2 separate regions of the Homo sapiens genome follow, and region 1 is linked to region 2. The links come from fine-mapping of genetic effects on gene expression. Tissue or cell type: prefrontal cortex. Region 2 holds a variant in brackets; the other region holds the start of a gene. All regions are shown on one strand. Distances are between the middles of the regions.

Region 1 (5,288 bases), 54 kb before region 2:
CATAAAAGTCATTAATGTGAAACAAAAAGCTCCCTATGAGTCAAGACTTAAAAAAAGCCAGAGCAATGTGGGGTGGTGTGGGCCGAAGTTCCCAGATCAAGGCTCCACAAGGCTCTGCAAGATCAGGCTCCAGCTCACCACCACCAAGCCCAGGTCCAGGACTCTGCTGAGAGCCCAGTGCATCAGACACCTGGAAGGGCTGCTTTAGATTCACTCAGCCTCACCTTCCGTAGGGCCTTTGCCTACTTGAGCAGGCTCAGCCTCGGTAGTGGCCACTGTCTCTATGAGGGCTCTGGCCATCTTCACGTGGGCACAACTGACAGTGTCTTTGGCCTTCTGCTGCCCTTGGTGTTTTCCTGTTGATACTGAGGTGCGAGATGCCATGGGACTCCCTGTGTACATACACAGCATGGACATTAATGGCCAATGGGGCAAACCTTTCACCAATGGGAGACAGGACCCTTCCTTCCTCTGGTAGATGTTCCTGAGTAGCGGTTGTTTATATGGCCCCTTGGAAGATGGTCAAGCCATTCAATACACTTTATACCAGCTGGTGGCCCCGTTGAGAACAACCCTAATACCAACTGTTCCCTGCCCTGCATTTCCTGCCTTCTAACTCTTGCTCCCTGGATTATACTTTGGAATAAAGTCCTTGCATATAAGCCTTTGACACAGGTTCTGTTTTCTGGAGAACCCAGGCTAAGACTGATGTTATCTGAACCAACTCCTAAGGCCAAAGGAATGTGGTATGCTCACTGACTTGGCTTGGACGGCCTGCTGTAATCCCTGCGTCAAGTGGGAGGGGCTTAGGCCAAGGAGCAGGAGGGGCTGTATATAACATGAGAAGGGTGGTGTGAACCAACCAAGACTCGACTACACAGTGAAGTCTGTGTTTGTCTTGCCCCAGAAATGAGTGTTTACTTCTAGTTCCTTAAACTATCCCATTTCTAGTTCTATGGGGTTGTTTCTCCTAGCAATTTCTGATGTCTAATAAATCAGAAGTGATGGTACAAATCCAGTTTAGCATCTTGCATTTTGTAATTCTTGTGTTCACAAATGTGACCAACCCGTTTTAACGGCTACAGATTGCAATCACAAGCTTAGGCAGAGAAGGAACGTTGCAAGCTTCTTTTTTAAGTGAAATCCTCCTGATTCCTCAGCCCTCCGGACTGGGGTACAGTTCATTTCAGTGATTATTGGAGCTTCCACCCCACCCACTAAGTAAGGCTTGAGAAGCCTGGTGCAGAGCAAAACAACCGGGGAACCCTGCAGGTCTTTGTGCTGTGCCCATTGCTGTTCTCATTTGCAGGCTGGTGGCAGCCCTCCTGCCCAATCACGTTTCAGTGTGGGAGTCTTTGCTGAGCCTGGAGTCCCTGCTTTGAGTCCCCTCCCCATGCTGAGAGAGCCCTAGCCCCATGTGGGAAAACCTGAGACTCCGCCTTCCCCTTATACTCATGTGGACTTGAATGCTACTCTTCTTCATTGGCTTTAGAGCTTCTTCCTACCCCCTGGCTATCTCAGCACAACCCCAAAATACTACTCATCTTACTCCACCCTACCTGGGGACACCAACCTAACCTCAGAACATTTAGGGCCAAGGTCACAAATTGGTAACCTGCTGGCCAAATACTGCCCACGACTCTGTTATATTGTTTTATATACAAAAAGGGGAATTTCATTTGTAAATGCAGACTTCTGGTGTGCTCAGAATATTTGGAAAATATTCCGGAAAAATCAGGATATTTGGCAACCTGGAATGTTGATTGTTTCATGATGACAGTTGGCTGGGACTGAGGAGCAGTTGCCTGCTTCAGATGGGATGAGTGCTCATCTATTTGGAAAAGTTCCTACCATTATCTAGACTTCATACCTGGCCTCTATAGGCATTTTGGTGTGAGTATTAAATTTATTTCATTAATCCAATAAATCTTTATTAAGCACCTTTTATTGGCAGACCTTGTTCTAGGCATGGGGGATATAGAAGTGGCAAAAAGGACCAAAGATCCTGTTTAGACAGAACTCATATTTTGATGGGAGAGACACAATTTTTAAAAATAGAAACATTAACATGTAATATGTCCAGCTGTGATTACCACTATGAAGACCATCAAGCAGGCTAAGAGTAATGGAAGATAATGAGATAGGAGTGGGGACAGGTGAGGTGCCATTTTGTATCAGGTATTTCTATAAGGTGATAAGGTGACATTTCAGCAGAGACTGAAGGCAATGAGAGGCTTCCCAAAGCCAGGAAGAGAGATTCTGTCTTCATATCACCTCTTTTAAGGCCTGTGAGGCAAGGGAACAAGCACAAAGGCCTTCTTGGAACATTCTAGAATAAAATACAGAGGCCAAAACACCAAGAGTTCTCATTAGTTTTTAGTTTTGCGTTCCAGTAGAAGCTAAACACAAACTAACACCTTATTAAGTTTTTAGTTTAACTGTTGTAAACGCTTTGGGTAGGTAAAGTTAAAATTCAAGTGTGATATTTATCCATTTAAAGGAGTGAATCAATCCTATTTTATTTTCTATATTTTTGGGAGCTGGCCTTTCTGCTTTAGTCATAGGACGCATAGAGCAAGCTTTTCTAATTTGATTGTTGGATGACGGTGTGGCATCTTCCTTTAGGTTCTTTTCTTGGGTCATGATCACAGCTAGTGCTAAACCACTCCATGCTGCCTGATCATACACCAGGGTTTGGTTATCCACATAAACATGATGCTGTTGTGAGTTCATTTTTCTATTTAGAGAAGCATGTCAGCTAGAAATACTTCCACCTTATTTCCCAGACACATGCGTGCTGAGTGAGTGGCCAAAATAGCCCCTTGAGTAAGTGGCAGCTTTAAAAACCATCCAACTGCTGACTTCAAACTAGAAGGTCAGCAAAGGAAAGTGGAAGTTGGATTCTGAAAGATCGAGGTGCCCACAGGAATTTTATGGTCGTCGGATTTTGAAGACTTGAACTAGACTGGGGGTTCTCCTTGCATTTCTTGCCTGTTGCCTATCTTTGTCCTCTCTCTTCCGGCTTCGAGATGAATGTGCAGCCCTGTTCTAGGTGTGGGTATGGGGTTTATCCTGCCGAGAAGATCAGCTGTATAGATCAGGTCAGTAGACATTTCTTGGCTTTTGTGAATAATAACAAACACAGGAAATTGACCTTCTCACATATGGACATAGGTAAATATGGAAATTTAATTTTCAGTTAAATTGTTTTGAACCACAAGAAAAAGTTATATTTTCTCACCTTTATTTAGTTCTACACATTTCTATTTCTTCTGTGTTGTCTCAAAAAAAAAAAGTTATCCATTTATTTAACCGTGAGTGTTGTTATAGCTGTGTGTGTGGATTTTAATTTTTTTAAAATCAGCATTTTATCCTCGAAGTTCATTTTTTTACCCTAAAATATATAAGAACCTTGAGTCTGGGGGGAAAAGGGTAATTGCTAAATCTTCTCTATATGATTTCTAGATATGGCATAAAGCCTGTTTTCACTGTGAAGTTTGCAAGATGATGCTGTCTGTTAATAACTTTGTGAGTCACCAGAAAAAGCCGTACTGTCACGCGTAAGTGTTTGATGCCCCCACCACTACCTCTTGAGTTTTATTTGTTTTTCAACAAGGAGCCAACTAAACGTTCAAATCATATAACCCAGGGTTAAATCCAAGAAATATCTTCTCCCAAAGTGTTCCCTTGTATCCTGTCATTAAAGAGACCTAAGGTGGGATTTTATGCAATGGACACAAAACTTCAAATTTCTTCCAAGTAAAAGATCAAATATATCCACTATAACCTCATGTCAAATTATTAAATACTGTGCAGAACAATGTAATGGCCATAAATATGCATATAGAGCTTTGAAGTATTTTCTTTTAAATAATTTCAGAATCCTTTTTTACTTTCTTCAGAAAGTTTTCAAGTGATCATTTCCAGTTAAATTTAGGCTTTCAGTTATATATGTCGATTTTATTTGATTTGCTTTTTTTTCTGTAAGATGCATTGCCTGGAAAATCACGAACTTAATTTTTAAGTTTTACATTTATTGATTTTTTAAAAATAACTGTTATTATTTAAAAATAATTTTAAGAATAGTCCCTCAATCATTTGGATAAAGTACATTTCTAATTTTGATTTATACCTATTTGTTGTAGCCATAACCCTAAGAACAACACTTTCACCAGTGTCTATCACACTCCATTAAATCTAAATGTGAGGACATTTCCAGAGGCCATCAGTGGGGTAAGTTATTTAATTTTCAGTGGGATGGAGGGTATGGAGAATGATTGGTTACTGGGTAGAAACATGCAAATAGATAAAAGGAATATATTCTAGCCAGGCACAGTGGCTCACACCTACAATTCCAACACTTTGGGAGGCCAAAGCGGGCAGATGGTTTGAGCTTGGGAGTTAGAGACTAGCCTGGGCAACATAGTGAGACCCTGTCTTTATTTCTTAAAAAGTTAAATAAATAAAAGAAGGAACATGTTGTAATGTCCTATAGCAGACAGAGTAGGATGACCACAATTAACAACAATGTATCATATATTTCAAAATAGCTAGAATAGAAATGATAAATACTCGAGCCGATAAACACCCTAAATGCCCTGACTTGATCATTACACATTCTAATATGTAACAAAATATTATATGTACTCCATAAATATGTGCAAATATTATATACCGATTAACAATGCTAGGCACATGTTAAGTTTTTAAGTGTCTCTGTCTGCATGTGAACCTGCCCATTTCCTCCACATACACATGTAAAGTGCATTTGAGTAACAAATATGACTGTTTGTTCTCCCACAATATTAGGAGCCAATATACAGGATAATCTAGATTGAATAATTGAGGTCCTTGATTTCAGTATAATCTTTGTGTCTTGACCAGCTCAAGACTGTTTCATAAAATGATGACAGTTTATAGAGTAGGCTCTGCATATACTAGGTGCTTAATACATAAAACAATGCTTACGTAGTTGGAACATATTACAAGGATCTTGACTTTTCCCTGTGACATTCTGGTACACAAAATTAAAACCTTTAGTTTCACACTGTTAAGTCTCTCTGAATTCAGTCATTACTTATGATTATTGGCAGCCTGTTTTCCCCTTGGGGTGGGGATAAGTCAAAGATGTTTTCCTTTGGAAAGGAAGTTTAGTTTAGGACGTGTGGGGTTGAGATGGGGAGGTAAATATGGAGGCCACATTGCCAAATCCAACCTCTTGAAAATCTAATAGTGGAGTTTTGTCAAATAACCAGTTATCGACGGAACTCTTGCACCTATTAAAATGA
Region 2 (5,288 bases):
ACAATGGAAGGACAAAGGAGGATGAGGAAGAGGTGGTGATTCTGCATCTGATTATTCCCAGAGTTTCCCAGACCTTTAAACACAGCTCCTCCAAGGACTATAGTCGAATCTATGGTCTGGAATGGGTCTTCCCCTCCCTCTCCCAGGGTGTGTTTTGGGTTTTGGGGAATGCCTATCCCTGAGGCTTGACTCTCCAAGCATCCTCCCCACTGCTCCTGGCTCCCACGTTGGCTAGGAAAATCATTGAATGCTTTGAAGAAACTCTTCCTAAGCTAGTGTGAGAGGAGAATCCCTCGTGTCTGAACTTGAGTGGGCGATGGGAAAAAATATGGTGGGCAGGGAGCGATGCATCTTCTTGCCTCTGAAAAATAGAAAGATCTAAAGATTTGAGCAAGGGAATCACTGACATTATTTACTGTTCCTTGGACTTTTGTATGTTCCTCAAATGAGGGAACCATGGGCCTTCTTCATCCAGATCAATGACCTCCAGGAGCTGGGGGTGGTAAGTGTCAGGGCCTAGAGACAAGCCCTGGTTATTAGGCCAGTCTCTGCAAGAAAGGAGCACTGGCCCTGCCAAGAACTTCCCCTGGGCTTACCTCCAGACAACTGCATTGCAGTTGCCCTCCCTGATGGTCCTGTTGCAAATAGTGGCTTTGAAATAGCTGCTGTTGCTCTGTCTGCCCCTCTAGGTGAATTACAAGAAAGGCTTTGAACACTCAAAGGCGCAGTTCCATCTGCCGTTGGACATGGCCGCCCTGGTGCATGCCAAGAAGGCTCAGACCCTGGCCAGCAATCAGGACTACAAACATCCACTGCCCCAGTACACTTCCTTGGCAGAAGACCTGAGGCTGAGCTGTGCCAAGAAAGCTCACAAATTGCAGAGTGAGGTAAGGAGACCTGGCCTCTTTCTCAGGGCCCCTTCTTCTCTTAGGACCTCAGGGTGGTGACCTCCAGGCTCCTGTTGGCTCAGTGAAATCTCTGGAAGTGAGAAATCCTAAACCCAAGTCTTATTTTGAAACCCAGTCTGAGAGTTCCTGCACATCCCTTAAGCACAGTTACACAAATCTAATCATAACCACAATTTATTATTTTTTGCTGCACTCTAAGCATTGTTTTATGCATTATCTCACAATCAGCCCATATCATTAGTTTATTCTCATTTTACAGAGAAATTACAGTGAAATGCAGAGAAGTTAAATATCTTGTCCAAGATCACACAGCTATAGTTAGAAAGAGAGGGCTGGGATTTGAACTTGAGGTTTGAATGACAAAGATGCCCTCAAGGTTCATGGTTGTGCATGTTTAAGATTTGCCAATGATATTGCCTCTGGCCTCAAGTCTCAGGAAGGATTCCTCTTGGTGCTTCATGCGTTCCTGTGCCACCCGCCTTCTGAGGAGGGCTAAGATCTGTTGGGAGAGGCTGCTCAGAACCTGTCAGGACTGACGCACTTCAGGGAGTGGAGAGGGAAATCAGGGCCCTGGAGACCCTCCTTGGGTCCCTTTGAGGAGTCTTTGTACTCCTCTGACATGCATTTCTCACTCGTGATCCCGATTTCTGAAGCAGACAGGCCCAGGAGGGTCAGGAAGCATTGGAGACTTCCTCACTCCCAAGGAGAGCCAGAGTGTTCTTCCCAACAGGCATCCACATCCTGTTCACTACTCACCTTATTTCCCAGCTTGCTAGGTTTCCATGCTATGAGATTTGCAGGTAATGGGCCCGCTTAGGAAAAGAAAACTCCGCACAAAACCTCTTTCCTGGTTTGGCAGTGCCTGCGATCTGAGCGGCACTCAGATCTGGGTGTCTGTCGTCTGTTTGGATTTTACGCCTGTGTACAGCGTTTACTGAATGACATAAACTGTCAGGAACCTGAGAGCAGCTGTAGGAACGAGGGAGCTGCCACGCTCATCTCGGGGGCCCGTTTGTCACTTGAGCGGAGCCCTCACTTGCCCTGCCTCTGGTTGTGATAGCGATTGGAAGGCAGGACGCCCAGGGGGCGCCTCACTGGCTGAAGGGGAGTGAATGTGGGAACTCTTTAAACTGTCAGCCCGAATCATTCAGGTACACAGACTGGCCCCCACCCACACGAACTCAGGCAGGCCTTTGCCAGATTCTTTTGGATTTATTTATTAGTTCTTTCTTAACCCATGATTAATTAATGCCACCCGCTGCTGCTGAGTTTTGTTTTAGAAGACCTGTTAGACCATTTCCACATTTGCCCCAAGACAACTGACTTTCTAACCACAATCCGCTTCAGTGTTTATTTTTTGATAGCCCACATTAAAATAAAAATCTGTCTCGCTTCTGTGGAACAGCTACTCTGAGACAAGTGACAGCAGAATTATTTTCTTCTGACCTACATTGCTTCCCCCCTAGTGAGCATTTACCAAGAAGTGTTTGTGCGTTGGCTGAGTTTAATATATCCGGAGGGACGGGTTCAGCCTTGAGTTCTAATTATGACGCTGTCAGATGCTGTGTCATGAGACCTCTGGTTTTGCTTTGCTTCCCTGTTCTGAGAGCTTGGCTTTTCTGATTCTTTGTATTTATTATTTCTTCTAGAATTTGTACCGGTCAGACCTGAACTTTATGCGAGGTGTTGCATGTGTC[A/G]TTCCAGGCACGTTAGAGATTGAAGGGAGGAAGAAAGCATCGGAACTCATCAGTGAGGTAACTACAGATGCTGGTGTTGAGTGTCCAGGACATTTCCACAGCAGAGGATAATCAGTTTGTTTCTTTCCTTTTTCTTTCTTCCTTTTTTTTTTTTTTTTTTTAATTTGAGATGGAGTCTCGCTCTGTCACCCAGGCTGGAGTAGAGTGGCACGATCTCTGCTCACTGCAACCTCCGTCTCCTGGGTTCAAGCGATTCTCCTGCCTCAGCCTCCTAGGTAGCTGAGATTACAGGTGAGTGCCACCATGCCTGGCTAATTTTTATATTTTTAGTAGAGATGGGGTTTCACCATGTTGGCCAGGCTGGTCTCGAACTCCTGACCTCAAGTGATCCACCTGTTGTGGCCTCCCAAAGTTTTGGGATTACAGGCGTGAGCCACTGCGCCCAGCCAATCAGTTTGTTTCTTACCACTAAAGCCAGTTGGATGTTAAACTCTTAGCAGCAGTGACTCACTCCGTAACCCCCTGGGCTGGACTTTTTTTTTTTTTTTTCTTACTGGATTCTCCATTCAGACTGCATGCCATTTAAGACAGCTTTGAGGATATGGAGTCAGTTCCTCTATTAACATATAAGGATTATTCACTGGCCCATGCGATATTCTCTCTGTGTCCCTTTGAAGAGTGGCCCTGTGGTACAATGCAAACAAAGCAGCCTTTGAAGACCAACAGAGAGAGATTGACATTCCAGGCCAGCACTGATTTGCTGTGTGACCTCAAGCCAGTGACCTACACCTCTCTGAGCCTCCACTTCTTAATTAGTCAAATGGGTATACTCAGACCCCTCTCTTTTAATTTTTGTGAGGATTAGCACTAATCTAAGCACTGTGCTTTTCTGGCAGCTGTATATGAAATGGTTACTATAAGCTTGAAATGGTGATAATTTCTTGGTAAAAATAAAGAAGTCTTAGAATTCTAAGCTTTCTGATTTCCTGGGGAATCTTGCTCACCCCTGGGAGGGTGACAGGACTTTAATTCATGGTAGATGCAGGGACAAGAGGGGATAATGGAAGGTACTGGAAGTAATAGGTGTTCAGCAGTCAGCCTGAGTGCTCAGATAAGCTTATGTTTTGCCTGCTAGGGGAGTTTAGATTTAACCTCATGCTTTGCTTTTCCAGAGAAATCTCTAAAGCAAGTGGTCTCTGTACCTCATGGTGCATCAGAACCTTAAAAAACCTTAAGAAATGCAGAGGCCTGGGCCCCACTGACTAATTTACTGAATCCCAGTCTCTCAGGGTGGGGTGTAGGCACACCTATTTTAAAGTTTTATTTATTTTTATTTTAGTTTATTTATTTATTTATTTGAGACAGTCTCACTCTATCACCCAGGCTGGAGTGCAATGGTGCGATCTCAGCCCACTGCAACCTCCGCCTCCCAGGTTCAAGCGATTCTCCTGCCTCAGCCTCCCAAGTAGCTGGAATTACAGATGTGCACCACCATGCTCAGCTAATTTTTGTATTTTTTAGTAGAGACAGGGTTTCGCCATGTTGGCCTGGATGGTCTCGAACTCCTGACCTTAGGGGATCCCACCGCCTTGGCCTCCTAAAGTGCTGGGATTACAGGCATGAGCCACTATGCCTGGCATGTCTGTTTTTTTAAAGCTGCAGTTTGTGATATGCCATCAAGGTAGAGGAGCACTGGTTCTCTGTCCAGCAAAGATCTGGAACAAACCACAAATTTAAATAGTCATGTTCACATTCATGGCAAAGGACTAAATCTCCCTTTTCCATTTAGAAGGTTCTGATTCAGTCCATCCTATCCTCCTCTCTGCTTCCTCATCCCAGTGAGTTTTGGGGTCACAAAGGCAGGTGACAATCTGGATTCTGGAGTGATAGACTTGCAGCCTTTGCAAAACGAGGCTTTATGGCTAATACTTAAAGAACTGGTTCTGCTTCTGGTTTTTATCCCTTACGGAGTCGTCTTCTTCCCTTCTTGTGTGTGAATTCAGAGTAAATATCGGCAGCATCCCCACTCATTCAAGTACACAGCTGTGACAGACACTCCCAACCTCCTTCATGCGAAATTCAGCAACCAGATAACGAATGAGGTAAAATCTCCTGATGGCTTTGGAATGGTCTTTTTAAAAACTGCTCGATTGTTAAAAATACACGTGAATGTGTTTGGGGTGAGAAAGAGCATGGGTGTTTATGTGGAGGTTTGGAAAGAAAAGAATGTCATTATATGGAACCTAAACATTTTCCAGAGGAAATGAAAGCCCAGTTGGGAATCTGGGATTGTCTGTAGTCTTGCTTTCCAAGTGCAATCCCAGACCAGCTACATTAGCATTGCCTGGGAGCATACTGGCAAGGCACAACCTCAGATCTACTGACTCCAAATGGTCATTTGACAGGATCATAAGATGATTCTTTGGCACATGAAGATCTGAGAAGTACTGGTCTGTAATTCATTTGTTCTATCTAGGCAAATATTGGCTAACCAATTTTACATTGTCAATCTGATGTGGGAGGATTTGTGGTTATCCAAGGACAGTTAAATTGTAAGATGTTTGTCAGGCTTCTCAATTATCTACCTTCTCCTCTTCTCACTCACCATTTACCCAATTTACACTTTCATGTATCCAGCAGAGGGCAGGTGCAAGGGAAGGAATCTCATTCTGTAAAATTATCA

Alleles and levels. Positions count from the first base shown, and alleles are read on the strand shown. Sizes are in standard deviations (SD) of each study's normalised expression.
For the expression in prefrontal cortex of the gene that starts at base 2,871 in region 1, allele A in region 2 goes with a lower level than allele G (small effect, 0.38 SD a copy in ROSMAP).

The links. PIP is the estimated chance that this variant, and not a neighbour inherited with it, causes the effect. A credible set is the group of variants that fine-mapping cannot tell apart.
Region 1: it holds the start of NRAP, and the variant in region 2 is the best candidate, but not a certain one, in a credible set for the expression of NRAP in prefrontal cortex (ROSMAP, PIP 0.53).

What each region holds. Positions count from the first base shown.
Region 1 is chr10:113,661,624-113,666,911 of GRCh38, reverse strand. It overlaps NRAP (nebulin related anchoring protein), which reads left to right and starts at 2,871. Exons shown (of 42, transcript NM_198060.4): 1 at 2,871-3,101; 2 at 3,466-3,560; 3 at 4,146-4,233. The coding sequence starts at 3,030.
Region 2 is chr10:113,607,833-113,613,120 of GRCh38, reverse strand. NRAP (nebulin related anchoring protein) reads left to right here. Exons shown (of 42, transcript NM_198060.4): 30 at 690-887; 31 at 2,558-2,662; 32 at 4,609-4,707. Among named protein-coding and RNA genes, the nearest start is that of NRAP, 54 kb to the left of the region's middle. RefSeq lists a silencer at 1,817-2,111. The variant A/G (reference allele first, on the strand shown) is at 2,606.